Linked DNA regions of Homo sapiens: region 2 is linked to region 1. The links come from fine-mapping of genetic effects on gene expression. Tissue or cell type: blood mononuclear cells. Region 1 holds a variant in brackets; the other region holds the start of a gene. All regions are shown on one strand. Distances are between the middles of the regions.

What was found. PIP is the estimated chance that this variant, and not a neighbour inherited with it, causes the effect.
Region 2: ACACA starts here. The variant in region 1 is fine-mapped to the expression of ACACA in blood mononuclear cells (TOPMed, PIP above 0.99).

What each region holds. Positions count from the first base shown.
Region 1 is chr17:37,468,000-37,476,181 of GRCh38, forward strand. TADA2A (transcriptional adaptor 2A) reads left to right here. Exons shown (of 16, transcript NM_001166105.3): 13 at 2,401-2,533; 14 at 3,095-3,138; 15 at 6,557-6,630. Among named protein-coding and RNA genes, the nearest start is that of DUSP14, 18 kb to the right of the region's middle. The variant G/A (reference allele first, on the strand shown) is at 3,602.
Region 2 is chr17:37,401,774-37,409,955 of GRCh38, forward strand. ACACA (acetyl-CoA carboxylase alpha) reads right to left here and starts at 5,063. Exons shown (of 56, transcript NM_198834.3): 1 at 4,489-5,063. The coding sequence starts at 4,526. TADA2A (transcriptional adaptor 2A) reads left to right here and starts at 5,113. Exons shown (of 16, transcript NM_001166105.3): 1 at 5,113-5,176. RefSeq lists an enhancer at 6,245-6,929.

The DNA.
Region 1 (8,182 bases):
TGAACCTGAGAAGCAGTTGTTGTAGTGAGCCAAGATGGTGCCACTGTACTCCAGCCTGGGTGGCAGAGGGAGATTCTGTTTCAAAAAAAAAAAAAAGGAATTTTATATTTTAGGTGTGTCACCCTTTTCAAATTTAATGATACATGGTCTTAGCATTTTTATAAAATAATGAAGCTTCAACTGGCTCCAGGTGCTTGCATCCCAGTTACTTGGGGTAGTGACAATAATTATATTATTAGCAGCTAACATCTATCAGATATTTACCATGTACCAGTCTCTATGCTAACCATTTCACTTGGATCAAGTCAATGAATTCTCATGACAAACTTATAAAGTACCGTTACTTCCATTTAGTGAAGAAATTAAGGTATAAAGAGGTTACAGAGCTAGTTAGTACTAGAACCAGGTCATAAGAGATAGTGTATTATAGTAGTTAAGAGCTTGGGTCTAGACTTAAAAAGCTTGAGTATAAATTTTGGCTCTCCAGCTTGCCAGCTCTGTGATGTGATTCTATCCAAATTTATTTTTCTTTCCTTTTTTTTTTTTCCCTAGAGACTGACTCTTGCTATGTTGCCCAGGCTGGTCTCAAACTCCTGGCCTCAAGCAGTCCTCCCGCCTAGGCCTCTCAGAGTGCTGGGATTACAGGTGTGAGCAACTGTGCCTGGCCTCTATTCAAGTTTTAATTTTCTAAGGTTCTTAGAGTTAGTGTAAAGATTTAATTAGAGATACTGCATATAAGCATAGCACAGTATCTGGCACACAATAATTCCTCAATAAATGGCAGTTTCTGTTGTTTTGCTGTCATTGTTGAAATGATCTTTAGCATTCCCTCCTTCTTCCTATTTGAAGTTTTTGTGATTATTGATAGTTGTCACCTACTATCTATAAGAAATAGTTGGCTTCTTTTTTTTTTTTATTTGAGACGGAGTCTGGCTCTGTTGCGCAGGCTGGAGTTCAGTGGTGCCATCTTGGTTCACCACAACCTCTGCCTTCTAGGTTCAAGCGAGTCTCCTGCCTCAGCCTCCTGAGTAGCTGGGACTACAGTCATGCACCACCATACCCGGCTAATTTTTTTTTTTGTATTTTTAGTAGAGATGGGGTTTATCCATGTTGGTCAGGCTGATCTCGAACTCCTGACCTCAGGTGATCCACCCACCTCAGCCTCCCAAAGCGCTGGGATTACAGGTGTGAGCCACCACGCCCGGCAATAGTTGGCTTCTTAACACAGCCCTGTGGGTGCAACATAGCCTTATGGATGTAAGTTCAGCCTAGTATAATGGCTCTTTAACAGTGGAAACCATTTTTGAAATTAAATTTTGTGTGAGCCCCAATCTACAAATAAGATAAAAGTGGGCTGGGCACGGTGGCTCACACCTGTAATCCCAGCACTTTGGGAGGCCGAGGCGGGCGGATCACTTGAGGTCCAGAGTTCAAGACCAGCCTGACCAACATGGAGAAACCCCGTGTCTACTAAAAATACAAAATTAGCTGGGCATGGTGGCGCATGCCTGTAATCCCAGCTACTCCGGAGGCTGAGGCAGGAGAATGGCTTGAACCTGGGAGGTGGAGGTTGCTGTGAGCCGAGATCGCGCCATTGCACTCAAGCCTGGGCAACAAGAGCGAAACTCCGTCTCAAAAAAAGATAAAAGTGGAATTACTTTGGTTGAACTTTAATGGTTCAATTTATGTGTAGAGCCCAGGACCCGCCGGTATCTGGCAGTGCCCTTTCTCTTTACATTAACCTCTAAGATACTCTTGTGGTATCCTGGGGCTCTGTGGAACCTAGTTTGAATTTTGAAACCCACTGGTGCAGTATTTTGGAATCTGTGAACCTTTGTTAACATGTAGAAAACACCACGCAGCTCTTCTGTTTAGCAAGATGCATATAGAGACTCTGATAACTAATTTTGGTTTCCTGATATTGGCTGCCTCTAAGAAATATGGAGAAGAGGTACTACATGTCAAAGAGAACTCTTTTTTTGTAATTCTAATTGTTTTTTAAGGAAAGGCATATGCTTATAGCACTTGTGTGACTTTGAAAAAATTTATAAAAATAGAAAAAACAGGAAGCAAATATGACTATAGTAAAAGTTGGTTACTTTTTGAGAGTGGAAATATGAGCAATTCTTACTTTCTTTGTACTTTTCTGTTGGTTTTTTTCCCCTTATTTCTTACAGATAGAAAAGGAATACAAATGTTTAATATTTAATACTTAGTATTAAGAAAAGGATTTCAGACTAGGGAAAATCTACTTGGGTCTTGGAGAAATAATTGTGAAAGCAGTTTTGCAAAGGAAACAGACTTTAAGAACAAAACCCAAAACCGGTTTCTTGGTCAGTTAGGAAGCCCTTCAGTTCTGCTGCATTGTCATTGTGGTCATTGTGTTTTCTATACCCCCAGGTGCCAGAACCTACGATCACCTCAAGAAGACACGGGAGGAAGAGCGCCTTAAACGCACTATGCTCTCAGAAGTTCTCCAGTATATCCAGGACAGTAGTGCTTGCCAGCAGTGGCTCCGCCGGCAAGCTGACATGTGAGTAATTACTCCAGGGTGAAGGAGGCATTCTTTCTGGGATGCCTTGGCCTTCACATATATTTTTGGGCACCCTAGATGGCAGAGTAATAATAATTGAGTAGCTGGAAGAATTCAGAAATATTTTAGCAGTCCATCTCAGAAACAGTGCCATACTGACAGTTTTGAGAAATAACTGACCTCCTAGAATCATACTTTACTACTTTGATCCTATTTTTTAAAATGAGTGTATTTTCCCCCAGCCTTCTACCCATGACTTCAACTCTCTCTTCATACCTAGATTTTCACTGGGGAATCATGTTTGTATCCCTTCCCCTTGAGTGGTGTTAGTGGTGTTCTAGATTACAAGCTCTTCTTAACAAATCTGAGGAATTTTTCTTCCTCAGAACAGATTTTCTTTCCTGCTCAATACAGTGAGATATCTGTAAAACATAGTTCAGTCTATCTCATTACACTTCTTCAAGGTGACCTACCTGATAAATGGCACCCAGTCTCACCGGGGCTTTTGGAAATCACCTTGTTTGATATGACCTAAGTTTAAATTCCTCTTCTTCGTTGTAGTGATTCCGGCCTGAGTCCTTCCATTCCAATGGCTTCGAATTCAGGTAATTATTTCTCAGGCCAGAACAAGTCTTAATTGTGAAGTTTGCATCGTAGGGGTTATAGTGACCCAGCAATCTTCCTTCCTCTGTGGTGTCAGGGTGCTTAGGCAGAGTAACAGTAATCAAGTGTTAGCCCAATATATAAACATCAGTATGTTTTCAGAACCTTCATGGCCAGACAGAGACTATCCTCAGAGTGACAGTATAGAGTATAGACAGTATAGAGACAGGGGAAAAAAGAACTTCAGAGAGGTAACTTCTTTATTTTACCAATGTTCATGAGCAGTTAGTTTACTGCAGTTGTGTCTACCACTAATTTTGAGACTTATTTCACAGGAGATAAATTAAAAGCTTTTTATTTTATTATTTTTTATTTATTTACTTATTTTTTGAGACAGAGTCTCGGTCTGTCGCCCAGGCTGGAGTGCAGTGGTGTGATCTCGGCTCACTGCAACCTCCGCTTCCC[G/A]GGTTCAAGTGATTCTTCTGCCCCAGCCTCCCGAACAGCTGGGATTACAGGCATGCACCACCACGCCTGGCTAATTTTTGTATTTTTGGTAGGGACGGTTTTGCCATGTTGGCCAGGCTGGTCTCGAACTCCTGACCTCAAGTGAGGCACCCACCACGGCCTCCCAAAGTGCTGGAATTACAGGCGTGAGCCACCGTGCCCAGCCTAAACTTTTTATTTTTATATAACATGAGCAAAGAAGCATGTTACTTGCCAGAAACATAAGGATTTCTGAGTTAGAGACCTAAAGTATTTCTATTTCTTCGTTTTACCTCTTTGAGTATGTCCTATTTTGAAATTAGTATACAGAGCAAGATTAAGCCATACGCTATCTGATGATCCTTGGTGATTGGTAATCGATGACTGGGAATTGGGGGAGGTATGTCTCAGTAGATTCAGAATCTGGGTCTCAGATTTGTCCGCGTTAGGGACTTTTTTTTTTTTGAGATGGAGTCTCGCTCTGTCACCCAGGCTGGAGTGCAGTGACGCGATCTTGGCTCACTGCAACCTCTGCCTTCCGGATTCAAGCGATTCTCCTGCCTCAGCCTCCCAAGTAGCTGGGATTAGAGGCGCCTGCCACTATGCCCAGCTGATTTTTGTACTTTCAGTAGAGATGGGGTTTCGCCATGCTGGCCAGGCTGGTCTCGAACTGCTGACCTCAGGTGATCTGCCTGCCTCGGCCTCCCAAAGTGCTGGGATTACAGGCATGAGCCACTGCGCCTGGTCACTGAAGGGACTTTTTTTTTTCCCCCATTTATTCCTTTATTTCAAGTGATTTTTTCTTAATATGGAAAGAAGAAAAAGGTATTGTTTTAGGGGAGTGGCTAAGACAGTGAAATCAAAGTTTTATTTTGTAAGTTTCTTACTGCCAACACTCTACCCCCAAAATCTAAATACAACTAAGTTAATACTGGCTAATTAAAATGAAGGAACTGGGTCAGGTGCAGTGGCTCATGCCTGTAATCCCAGCACTTTGAGAGGCTGAGGCGGGCAGATCACCTGAGGTTGGGAGTTTGAGACCAGCCTGACCAACGTGATGAAAACCCATCTCTCCTGAAAAAAAAATATAAAAATTAGCTGGGTGTGGTGGTACACATCTGTAATCCCAGCTACTCCAGAGGCTGAGGCAGGAGAATCGCTTGAATCCGGGAGGCAGAGGTTTCAGTGAGCCAAGATCGCACCATTGCACTCCAGCCTGGGTGACAGAGTTAAGACCATCTCAAAAAATAAATAAATTAATTAATTAAATTAAATGAAGGAACTGGCTAACATGATCATATATTTTTGTTCTCTGTACTATCTGCACTGACTTGTTCATTGTTTCTTTTTTCTTTTTTTGTGAGACAGGGTCTCCCTCTACTATCCAGGCTGGAGTGCAGTATGTGATCATGGCTCACTGTAGCCTCAAACTCCCAGGCCTAAGTGATCCTCCCAGTTCAGCTCCTGAGTGGCTGGGACTACAGGTGAATGCCACCAAACCTGGAGAAATTTTTTTTTTTTTTTTTTTTTTTTTGGTAGAAACAAGGTCTTACTATATCACCCAGGTTGGTCTTGAACTCCTGGGCTCAAGTGATCCTCCTGCTTCAGCCTCCCAAAGTGCTCAGATTACAGGTGTGAGCCTCTGCACCCGGCCTCTTGTTCATTGTTTGTTCCTAGCCTGTGTTAGCCTTTCTCACCCCTTATATTTAGGCTGAGGAGATCTCTTGCTCTCCTTTATGTTCTGAGTTCTTAAGGCAACTATGTATTGGAAGCCTGGCATCTTTGATTGTAGCCTAGCCTCTGGTGACTTTTGTGAGGAACCAAATGGTTTTATCTCCCTTTTTGAGGATTTGGAATAATCCCTTATGCCTTTTGTTGATGTAACAGAGAAGCCTGTTTTCCACCAGTGGAGCTTGTAACAGTCCCTCCCCTTTCTCTGCCCCACTTGAAAAGCAACCTCTATAAAACTTCGACATTTTCTTTGCTTAACTCAGTCTATCCATTCCCAGCTGAATACCAATCCCTAATACACATTCAAAACAAAACCAAAAAAGTTTTGCTCATCAAGCTTCCCCTCCTGGCCAGTGACCTCCTACTTGGGTTTCTTTCTCAGGTGTGTGAGTTGACCTCAGCCCCTGCTTTGCCATATAATGGCTCATTGTTCCTGTTTGTGGATCTTGCAGGTAAACAGGGCTACTTTGGAAGGAACAGATATTCCCTCACATAATAAAAAAGAAGGGCCTTTTGCTGGCCTAACAGTCTTTCTTTGATCTGAAGGCACACAGTACTTGGTTAATTACCATGTTTGCCTTGTACTGCTGGCCGAGTGGCAAGGATTAGGGAATGTCTGTTCTGCAGTTATTATTTCCATTCGTCAGCTGTCAAAGCAGGCATTGTGTGATGTTTCTTAACTGGATGACATCTGGGCATCAGATTTTAGAGTCTCCTACATGGTTAGGAAGAAATAGGTGATAGTCGGGCATGGTGGCATATGCCTGTCTTCCCAGGTAGTTGGGAGGCTGAGGCAGGAGGATCACTTGAGCCAGGGAGATTGAGGCTATAGTGAGCTATGATCGCAACACTGCACTCCAGCCTGAGCAACAGAGTGAGACCCTGTCTCAAAAATAATAATAATAAATAAGAGATAACTACTGTGGTGAGTAGTTACATTTGATGCTAAGGTATGTGTGACTGTATGTGTATTTTAGCAGATTATGGGTAATTCATGTGCCCTGAATATGTAATTCATTTTCAAGTGAATGTTCGGGTGCCCATGTTGTTAGCTAAACAGGCCTGAGGGAATGGGACAGGATTTCCTAAGCTGGATATAGTGATCCTATACCTAACTGGCCTGGCTGCACTGAACTTTTTAATACTTTACACCTGAGAAATTGTCACTCCTATTAAATCTATGCTGTTTCCTTTCTCTGTCTATAGGTAGACGGAGTGCACCACCCTTGAACCTCACTGGCCTCCCTGGCACAGAGAAGCTGAATGAAAAAGAAAAGGAGGTAACAAAAGGGAGGGGGCTGGGAGAAAGAGAATAGGGGCTGATTATTCATTGAGTTGTCATTAAAAATCCATTACAGGGTCAAACCCCTTTTGTTTCATTCATCTAACATATATGCACAGCTCTGGTGAATCCTAGAAGTCCAAGAGCTAAAGAGCCGTTTGTGGCAGATTTCAGAGAATTGCTTACCTTGTCACCCTACCACCATTCCTCTTTTGGGGAAAGCACATGTGGTATGTAGATGACATAATAATAGCAACTATCATCTATTGAGCACTTACCATGTGCTACTCTACTGAGTGCTTTATGTAAATAAAATTAATTTTTTGTAAACCTAAAGTAACTTCTACATGAAAATAGATATTTCCTATTAGAATGGCTGCCTTGAAAAGTTCTATACTTATTCCAACAACATAATCATTATTTAAAACATTTTTGTAAATTGTCTCCAGAGCATGTTTATAAACCTAAGGAAAAGATTTCTACATCATATATAGTCATGTTAATTTTGATTTTAAAAATTATTTTTTATTTTTATTTTTTTTTATTTATTTATTTTTTGAGACGGAGACTTGCCCTGTCACCCAGGCTGGAGTGCAGTGATGCGATCACAGCTCACTGCAGCCTCCACCTCCCAGGTTCAAGCGATTCTTCTGCCTCAGCTCCCCGAGTAGCTGGGACTGGACTATAGGCGCTTGCCACCATGCCTGGCTAATTTTTGTAGTTTTTAGTAGAGATGGGGTTTCACCATGTTGGCCAGGCTGATCTTGAACTCCTGACCTCATGATCCATCCACCTTGGCCTCCCAAAGTGTTGGGATTACAGGCGTGAGCCACCTCACCCGGCCTATTTTTTATTTTTTATTTGAAAGTCTCGCTCTGTTACCCAGGCTGGAGTGCAGTGGTGTGATCTCGGCTCACTGCAACCTCTGCCTCCCGGGTTCAAACGATTCTCCTGCCCCTGAGTAGCTGGGACTACAGGCGCATACCACCACACCCGGCTAATTTTTGTATTTTTAGTAGAGACGGGGTTTCACCTTGTTAGCCAGGCTGGTCTCGAACTCCTGACTTCAGGTGATCCACTCACACCAGCTCCAAAAGTGCTGGGATTAGAGATGTGAGCCACTGCACCGGCCTGATTAAAAAATTATGTGACCTACTTTTTCCAGTTGCAATCATCAGACATGTCTTCATATTGATTTTATCTGTTTCTAAAATTTAAAGCCAGCCTCATAAGAGTCATCATCAGGAGTTTTCAGAAAACTTTGTCACATCTCTGAAGTCTGTTCCTCTTTTGGAGGAGTTCCTCTTTTGCTCCTCATATGCTCCTTTTATAATTCCCAAGGTCAGTTCCCCATCTCCCACCATATATCATTAGTTCAGTTCAGATAATAAGGAAGGGTCATAGTGTAGGGGATAGTGTTAGTCTTATTTTATCCACCAGGAACAGTAAGGATTAGTTTGGGAGTGGAAGGAAATGTATGTAGTATCTATGTATTGCTGAAGGAGGTCATAGGTCAGCCTGATTCAAATATTGAATGGCCTGGAATTTCA
Region 2 (8,182 bases), 66 kb before region 1:
AGTCTCGAACTCCTGAGCCCAAGCAATCTTCCCACCTAGGACTGTCAAAGTGTTGGGATTACAGGCATGAGCCACCGCACCAGGCCAGAAACTCTACGTTTGATTCTAACCACAGCAGCTTAGCAGCTGAGGACAAACTGTTGGGATATTTTGGTCTCAGTCAATGGCAGCCAGGTTACCAACCCTGACAAGATACAAGTTTTCTTCGTTGGGTTCCTGGTACAAAAGTCAACCTTTTCAGTTACTTATGAATGAAAGGGCATGAAGATTGTGCTATTAGTTTATCCTGAAGGTCAATCTTCAAAAATACTGGTTCAACATGGATTTGGATATTATTAATATAAATTTATGGCTTAAAGAGGACAAAAGGTGTTTTTTTGGGTTCCTTTACAGAGATATTTAGTGAGGGAACAAGGCACTTAGTCATCTTTGCTATGACAGGTTAAATACAAGGTGTACTGGGAACATGTAAGAGGGTGACTTAACTCAGCCATTGGGGGGTCAGGAGAAGTGTTCCTAAGGAAGTGATGTCTAAGTGAGGTAGGCAGTACCTTGGCAAAAAAAACCTTGAAGTTAAGAGTGCATATGAGAAATGAAGGTATGTCCACCTGGCTGGCAAATGGAGTCTAAGATAGGGCAGTGATGATAAAGATATAGGAAGATGCTAGATCTGGAAGGGCCTTCTAAAAAGAATGACAATATAAATTTATTGTACAAATGGAGACTTTACTGAGAGTGAAACCAGGCAATATTAATACTTAGGTAGGGACAACAGATATAAACCAGGCTATTCTCAGCAAATCAGAAATTATGGTCACCCTACTTGTAAGTCACATTCAGGTGCTTAGACTTTCAGTGAAAGCATAGAGTATGTATCTTCTACATTTTGCCTAAGTGACTTCATTCTTTTTTTTTTTGAGACAGAGTCTCGCTCTGTTGCCCAGGCTGGAGTACAGCGGCACGATCTCAGCTCACTGCAAGCTCCACCTCCCAGGTTCACGCCATTCTTCTTCCTCAGCCTCCTGAGTAGCTGGGACTACAGGCGCCCACCACCACGCCCGGCTAATTTTTTGTATTTTTAGTTGAGATGGGGTTTCACCATGTTAGCCAGGATGGTCTCGATCTCCTGACCTCGTGATCCGCCCGCCTCAGCCTCCCAAAGTGCTGGGATTACAGGCGTGAGCCACTGCACCCAGCCAGTGACTTCATTTTTACTTTTGCCTTTACTTACTCATTTCACAAGTATTTGAGGATACACTTCAGAGCACTGAGGTTACAAAGACAACAGTGTCTGTCCTCAAGGTCTGTCTAGGTAAGACACACAGCCAAATAAACAATTCTAATACAGTTATACAGTTTTAGTTCTGACACCTCCAATGAGCTGTAGACTTGTATTTGTCATTTCCAGTCAGAATGCAAAACACAGATCCAAAACAGAACTTTCAATTTCTCCTCCAAATCTATTCTTCCTTCAGCTGGTCGTGTAAGTGATGCCACTATCACATCCACTTAAGACAAAAACCCAGAGGAGTACTGCCTTAATCAGTAATCAGTGTTACCCTTCTTCTCACTGTGCATGTTAATTTTGCCACATCTTTTTTTTTTTTTTTTTTTTTGGTACAGTGTCTCACTCTGTCACCTAGGCTGGAGTGCAGTGGTGTGATACTGGGTCAATGCAGCCTCAACCCTCTGGGCTGAAGTGATCCTCTCACCTCAGCCTCCTAAGTAGCTGGGACTACAGGCATGCGCCACTACACCTGGCTAATTTTTGCAATTTTTGTAGAGACGAAGTTTCACCATGTTGCCCAGTTCTCATGCCTCCTTGAACTCCTGAACTCAAGTGATCTGCCTACCTTGGCTTCCCAAAATGCAGGGATCCCAGGTGTGAGGCACCGTGTCCTGCCCTCTCCACATCTTTCTTAAGCACACTGACTAAATTGGTCTAAGTAGAGCCTAACATCAACTGAAGGGAGAGGGTAATTTCCAGGTAGTTGAATGCTATGATTTTTGTTTTTTTGTTTTTGAGACAGACTCTTGCTCTGTTGAACAGGCTGGAGGGCAGTGGTGCGATTTCAGCTCACTGCAACCTCCACCTCCAGGGTTCAAGCAATTCTTGCGCCTCCCAAGAAGCTGGGATTACAGGCATGCGCCACCACACCCAGCTAATTGTTGCATTTTTAGCAGAGATGGGTTTTCGCCATGTTGCCCAGGCTGATCTTGAACTACTGGCCTCAAATGATCCATCTGCCTTGGCCTCCCAAACTGCTGGGATTACAGGAATGAGCCACTGTGCCTGGCCCCTGAATGCTATGTTTTTAACGACTAGATCTCAGTATTATGTGGGACTAATTTTTCTACAGTATTACAACACTGATTACTGATATTCATTGTTGACAATCATGACATCCAGATCTGGATATTTGCCTTAGCCAGTCTCAAAATTTGAGTTTCAATGACAAAGACACAGATATGTCCTAAATGACTGACCCCACTTCCACTATGTGAAGTTGAGAGTGGTTGTAAAGCTGTACAGCTATAGGTGAAACACTAATGTTAATCAACTATCTGTTGAACAACTACCATGTAAAAGGACAATTTATGCCTTAGAGAGCAATTTAAAATTTTTTTAGAGATGGGGGTCTCGATACGTTGCCTAGACTGGTCTCAAACTTGGGCTCAATCCATCCTCCTGCCTCAGTCTCTCGAGTAGCTGGGATTACAGGTACACACCACTTCACCAGGCAAAGGGCAATTTTAATATTTCTACCATCCATTCTCCACACAGCTGCCACAGTGATTTTTTTTTTTTTTTTTTTTTTGAGATGCAGTTTCACTCTGTTGCCCAGGCTTGAGTGTAGTGGCACAATCTTGGCTCACTGCAACCTCCACCTCCCAGGTTCAAGTGATTCTCCTACCTCAGCCTCCCGAGTAGCTGGGATTACAGGCGCCCGTCACAATGCCCAGCTAATTTTTTTTGTATTTTTAGTAGAGATGAGGTTTCACCATGTTGACCAGGCTGGTCTCGAACTTCTAACCTCAAGTGATCCGCCTGCCTCGGCCTCCCAAAGTGATGGGATTACAGGTGTGAGCCACCGCTCCCAGCCCACAGTGATCCTTTTACAGCAAAGCTACTCCTTTGCTCTCAACCCTTCGTCATATTCTGTCACTTCCCAATAAAATCCAAACCTTACCAGATGATACATGATCTGCCTTGATTTCCATCTAATTTCTCTCATTTGCTGTGCTCCAGCCACACTGGTCTTGCCCTTTCTCCATGCCAAACAAATCCCCATTTCAGGGTCACTGCACTTGCTGCTTCTCTTCTAGGATAGTTTCCCTCTAGAAATCCATGTTGCTCCTTCTCTCATTAAATGATCAGATATTTATGTGCCTCCTTAGCTAAGAGGCCTTCCTTATCTACCCTAACTAAGAGAATCCCCATATCACTCTTATCCTTTTATCCTGATTTATTTTTCCATAAAACTTGCCACATTACTGGGCATTATCTATCATTTAGTAATGTGTATATTGCTTATTGACAGTCTTCCCTACTATAATATGAGCTCCATGAGGCAGAGACTTTGTTTTGTTCACTGCTGAATTCCCAGCACCTACAACAAGCCTACTCACTAAACATTTGTTGAATTAATCTTCAGGATACATCAAATGTAAAATATCCTATCATATATTTATTGATGTGATGCATAGGAAAATGTCTGGAAGGGTACATACCAAAATGTTAATTATTTATTTAACCTGGTGGGAGGTGGTTTTTCTTTCCTTTTCTTTTCTTTTTGAGACAGAGTTTCGCTCTCGTTGCCCAGGCTGGAGTGGAATGGCAAGATCTTGGCTCATTGTAACCTCTGCCCCCAGGGTTCAAGCGATTCTACTGCCTCAGCCTCCGGAGTAGCTGGGATTACAGGTGCCTGCCACCACACCCGCGTAATTTTTTGTATTTTTAGTAGAGACGGGATTTCACCATGTTGGTCAGGCTGGTCTAGAACTCCAGACCCTGTGATCCGCCCGCCTCGGCCTGCCAAAGTGCTGGAATTACAGGCGTGAGCCACCGCGCCCGGCAGGGCTTTTTTTTTTTTTTTTTTTTGGAATGAACTTGTATTATGCATATACCAAAAAAGAATGAAAGGGTTCACACAGGCATAAAGTGTAAGTGAATTCTAAAAAAAGGTTGGGCAAATTTATCAAAGGCAGACTTCTAAATAGATGTAACAGTTATATAGTTCAGATAAACCATGGTTTGAATTCCCTTCCCCAGTACTTCCTAGCAGTGTGATCCCAAGTTATTTATGTCAGTGCCTAGATTTCTTCACCTGGAAAATAGGGATAACAACAGGTGCCTACCTCACAAGTTTTAAATGAGACCGTATGTGTAACCTGCTTTGTGCAATGTCTGGCATGCAATAAGTACTCGACAAATGGTAGCTATTAGAATCATCATTAACAGCAGTAATAAGAGATCTTGGGACATACCTAGCCCTCAAGATTGACATCAGAGTAGACCACCACATCCTCTCATCATTGCGCCTCAATTTGGGCCTCTGAAGCCCAAAGAGGGGATGGTTCTTTCCAAAGAAGACAATTTCGACGTTCCAGGAGCATCTGATTGAAACGCACCCTCTTCACCCCTTAAAATCAGTCTGGTTCATCCACGAGCAGCCCTTCGGGGCCCGGACTGGAGAGGCGCCACGGCTCGCCGTCCCTGGGCCCAGTTCCCTCAGCCTCAATTTCCCTTGCTGCAACAGGGGTGGAGATGGGAACGTTATCCCCAAACCCAGGCAGTCCCGGCTCGGCCCGCCTCACCGCACTCCGGAGGGGACCAAACAGCCCCACGCGCCAGGAAGCCTCAGGCAACGGGCCACGCGCCACACGGGCAAAGTGATTACTGGTCGGATCAAAAGTCAGGCAAGCGGCTCAGCCCCATCCTCCCAGTCCTCGGGCACGGGGACAGCAGCAGGCGCGCGGCGGGGACCGGGAAAAGGCCAAGAGGGCGGTGGCGGGCGCTCAGCACCCGGCGGGGGCCTCCACGGCCGAGGGGCGGAGGCGGCGGGCGCGCGGCACGCGGCGCGCTCGCCACTGCGCCGCCCGGGGGCGCGCACGCAAAGCCCGGAGGCGCGCGCGACCGGCGGCTCTTTGGCGCGGATTAGGGGGTCTCGGCGAGGTGAGGCGCCAGGCAGCGCTGGGCGGGCGGGCGGGCGGGTGGCGGAGCGCGAGCCCCTCTAGCGGGACTAGGGAGAAGCGGGGGCCACGAGGTGCGGCGGGGGAGGAGTCGCGGGCTGCGGGCCCCGGCGGCGGGCTTGACGCGGCAGGCTGGCGGGCCGGCGGGCGGGCAGCGGCGGGCCTCGCCGCTCTGTGGGGGAGGGCGGTGTGGGGCCGGGCCTGACCCCGGGGGCCCGCCCCGCGTCTGGGCGGTGCCCCAGTGCCCCGGCCTCGCCATTTCCCGCTCAGCCCTGGAGCGCGTAGCTCTACCAAGAATGGCCACTGTGCCAGATGCCCCTGACCAGCGTTGCCCATTTGAATTTCCTAGCAGGCCCCCCAAAGTAGGTATTTCAGTACCCTGTTAGAGCTGAGGCGCAGGTAAAATGACTGGCCCAGGCCGGTCCCACCCCGTAAGGATTTGAACGTTGGCTCCACAACTCGGGAGCCTGCGCCTTTCCTCCTCCCAACGTGGACTCCTGCCCGGCGAAGTGCCTCACTTCCTTCTCCCGGTAACTGATTCGAATTTGGCGATTGTTAGTTTGGAGCTAGCGCCAGTGTTTCCACGGAAGTTGGTGTCAGAATGTGGTCTCTTGTGAAAGGGGGAGAAAGAAGATTCTGCAGACTGCAATATTGTGCTTTTTTGCCTTTTTTTTTTTTTCTCCTAGGCTGTACTGCAGTGCAGTGGCACGATCGCGGCTCACTGCAATCTCCGCCTCCCAGGCTCAAGCGATTCTCGTGCCTGAGGCGTGGGCCACCACGCCCAGCTAATATTTGTATTTTCAGCAGAGGTGGGGTTTCACCATGTTGGCCAGGCTGGTCTCGAACTCCTGACCTCAAGTGATCCTTCCGCCTCGGCCTCCCAAAGTGCTGGGATTACAGGCGTGAGCCACCACGCCCGGCCCTACTATTTTTTTATTTTTTGAGATGGCGTTTCTTTCGCCCAGGCTGGAGTGCAATGGCGCCATCTCAACACACTGCAACTTCTGCCTCCCAGGTTCAAGCGATTCTCCTGCCTCAGCCTCCCGAGTACCTGGGATTACAGGCGCCCGCCACCACACCTGGCTATTTTTTGTATTTTTAGTAGAGATGGGGTTTCGCTGTGTTGGCCAGGTTGATCTCGAACTCCTGACCTCAGGTTATCTGCCCACCTGGGACTCCCAAAGTGCTGAGATTACAGGCGTGAGCCACCGCACCCGGCCTCCTACTGTGCTTTTTCGAGTGTTGATCAGTCCCTATTGACTGTGCATCCTTTACTGGACGTCTGTTTTTGTTTTTGTTTTTTGAGAGGGAGTTTCACACTTGTTGCTCAGGCCAGAGTGCAACAGCGCGTTCTCAGCCCACCGCAACCTCCACCTCCCGGGTTCAAGCAGTTCTCTTGCCTCAGCCTCCCAAGTAGCTGGATTACAGGCATACGCCACCACGCCCAGCTAATTTTGTATTTTTAGTAGAGACAGGGTTTCTACATGTTGGTCAGGCTGATCTCGAACTGCCGACTTCAGGTGATCTGCCTGCCTCGGCCTGCTAAAGTGCTGGGATTACAGGCGTGAGCCACTGCGTCCAGCCTTGACATCTGTATTTGAAATGACACAGCTATCCCTTGTAAGACACTGCGCAAGTAACATACTCTTTCAGAGCTTGCTTGCTTTTGAAAAAGCAGCTTGCCCCAAAAGTGTGGGAGTGAGGATTCAAAGAATCCCCACACCTTGGTACCCACGGGTACCTAGCAAATTGAAAAAGTTCAGTAAATTTGGCAGTTATTTGATTGCTGCGTTCGTAATACACCCTTGCTAGACTCATTTTTCTTCAGAGCTCAACTTTTCCTGAGAGGACAGCAAAGGGAGACCTACCCCACCCCAAAAAGGGAAAGTTCTTTGATGGCAGCGTTAGCAGAAATGTTGCCCACACTTAGTGATGAATTATTCTCCAAGCTAAAAATTACCAGGGTGAAAAAAATCACTTCAGAAAAGCTAAAGATAAATTAACCTTTTGTAGAATTAACATTTATTAGTCCACTACTATGTGTTTATTGTATTCCTCCTGTATGCTTGGCATTTTAAAAGCATACAGATAGGTATCCGATATAGTCTCTGCTTTCACTTATTTATTATTTATTTTTGAGACAGGATCTTGCACTGTCGCCCAGGCTGGAGTGCAGTGGCACAATCTCGGCTCACTGCAACCTCCACCTGCCTGGTTCAAGCAACTCTCATGCCTCAGCCTCCCGAGTAGCTGGGATTATAGGCGCCCGCCACCACGCCAAGCAAATTTTTTTGTATTTTTGGTAGAGACGGGGTTCTCACTATGTTGCCCAGGCTGGTCTGAAACTCCTGACCTCTGGAGATTCATCTGCCTCAGTCTCCCAAAGTGCTGGAGTTACAGACATGAGCTACCACACCCAGCCTGCTTTCACTTAATTTAGAAGTGGGGGAAAATAGACATTCAGAAGTAATACTCACAAAGTAGAATGTGAAAAATGCCAGATAAAAAGCTGTGAGTGGGCCGGGTGCGGTGGCTCATGCCTGTAATCCCAGCACTTGGGGAGGCTGAGGTGGGCAGATCGCCTGAGGTCAGGAGTTCGAGACCAGCCTGGCCAACATGGTGAAACCCCGTCTCTACTAAAAATACAAAAATTAGCCAGGCCTGGTGGCCCGCGCCTGTAATCCCAGCTAATTGGGAGGCTGAGGCAGGAGACTCGCTTGAACCCGGGAGGCGGAAGTTGCAGTGAGCTGAGATCGTGCCATTGCATTCCAGCCTAGGCAACGAGAGCGAGACTTAGTCTCAAAAAAAAACAAAAACAAAAACAAAAAGCTGTGAGTGTACAGAAGAAGGATTATTTTTTGACTTAGTGTAAAATATTATTTTATTTCTGCTTCAAAGAAGATACTTTGGGCCAGGCATGGTGGCTCACACTTGTAATCCCAGCACTCCAGCACTTTTGGAGGCCGAGGTGGGCGGATCACTTGAGGCC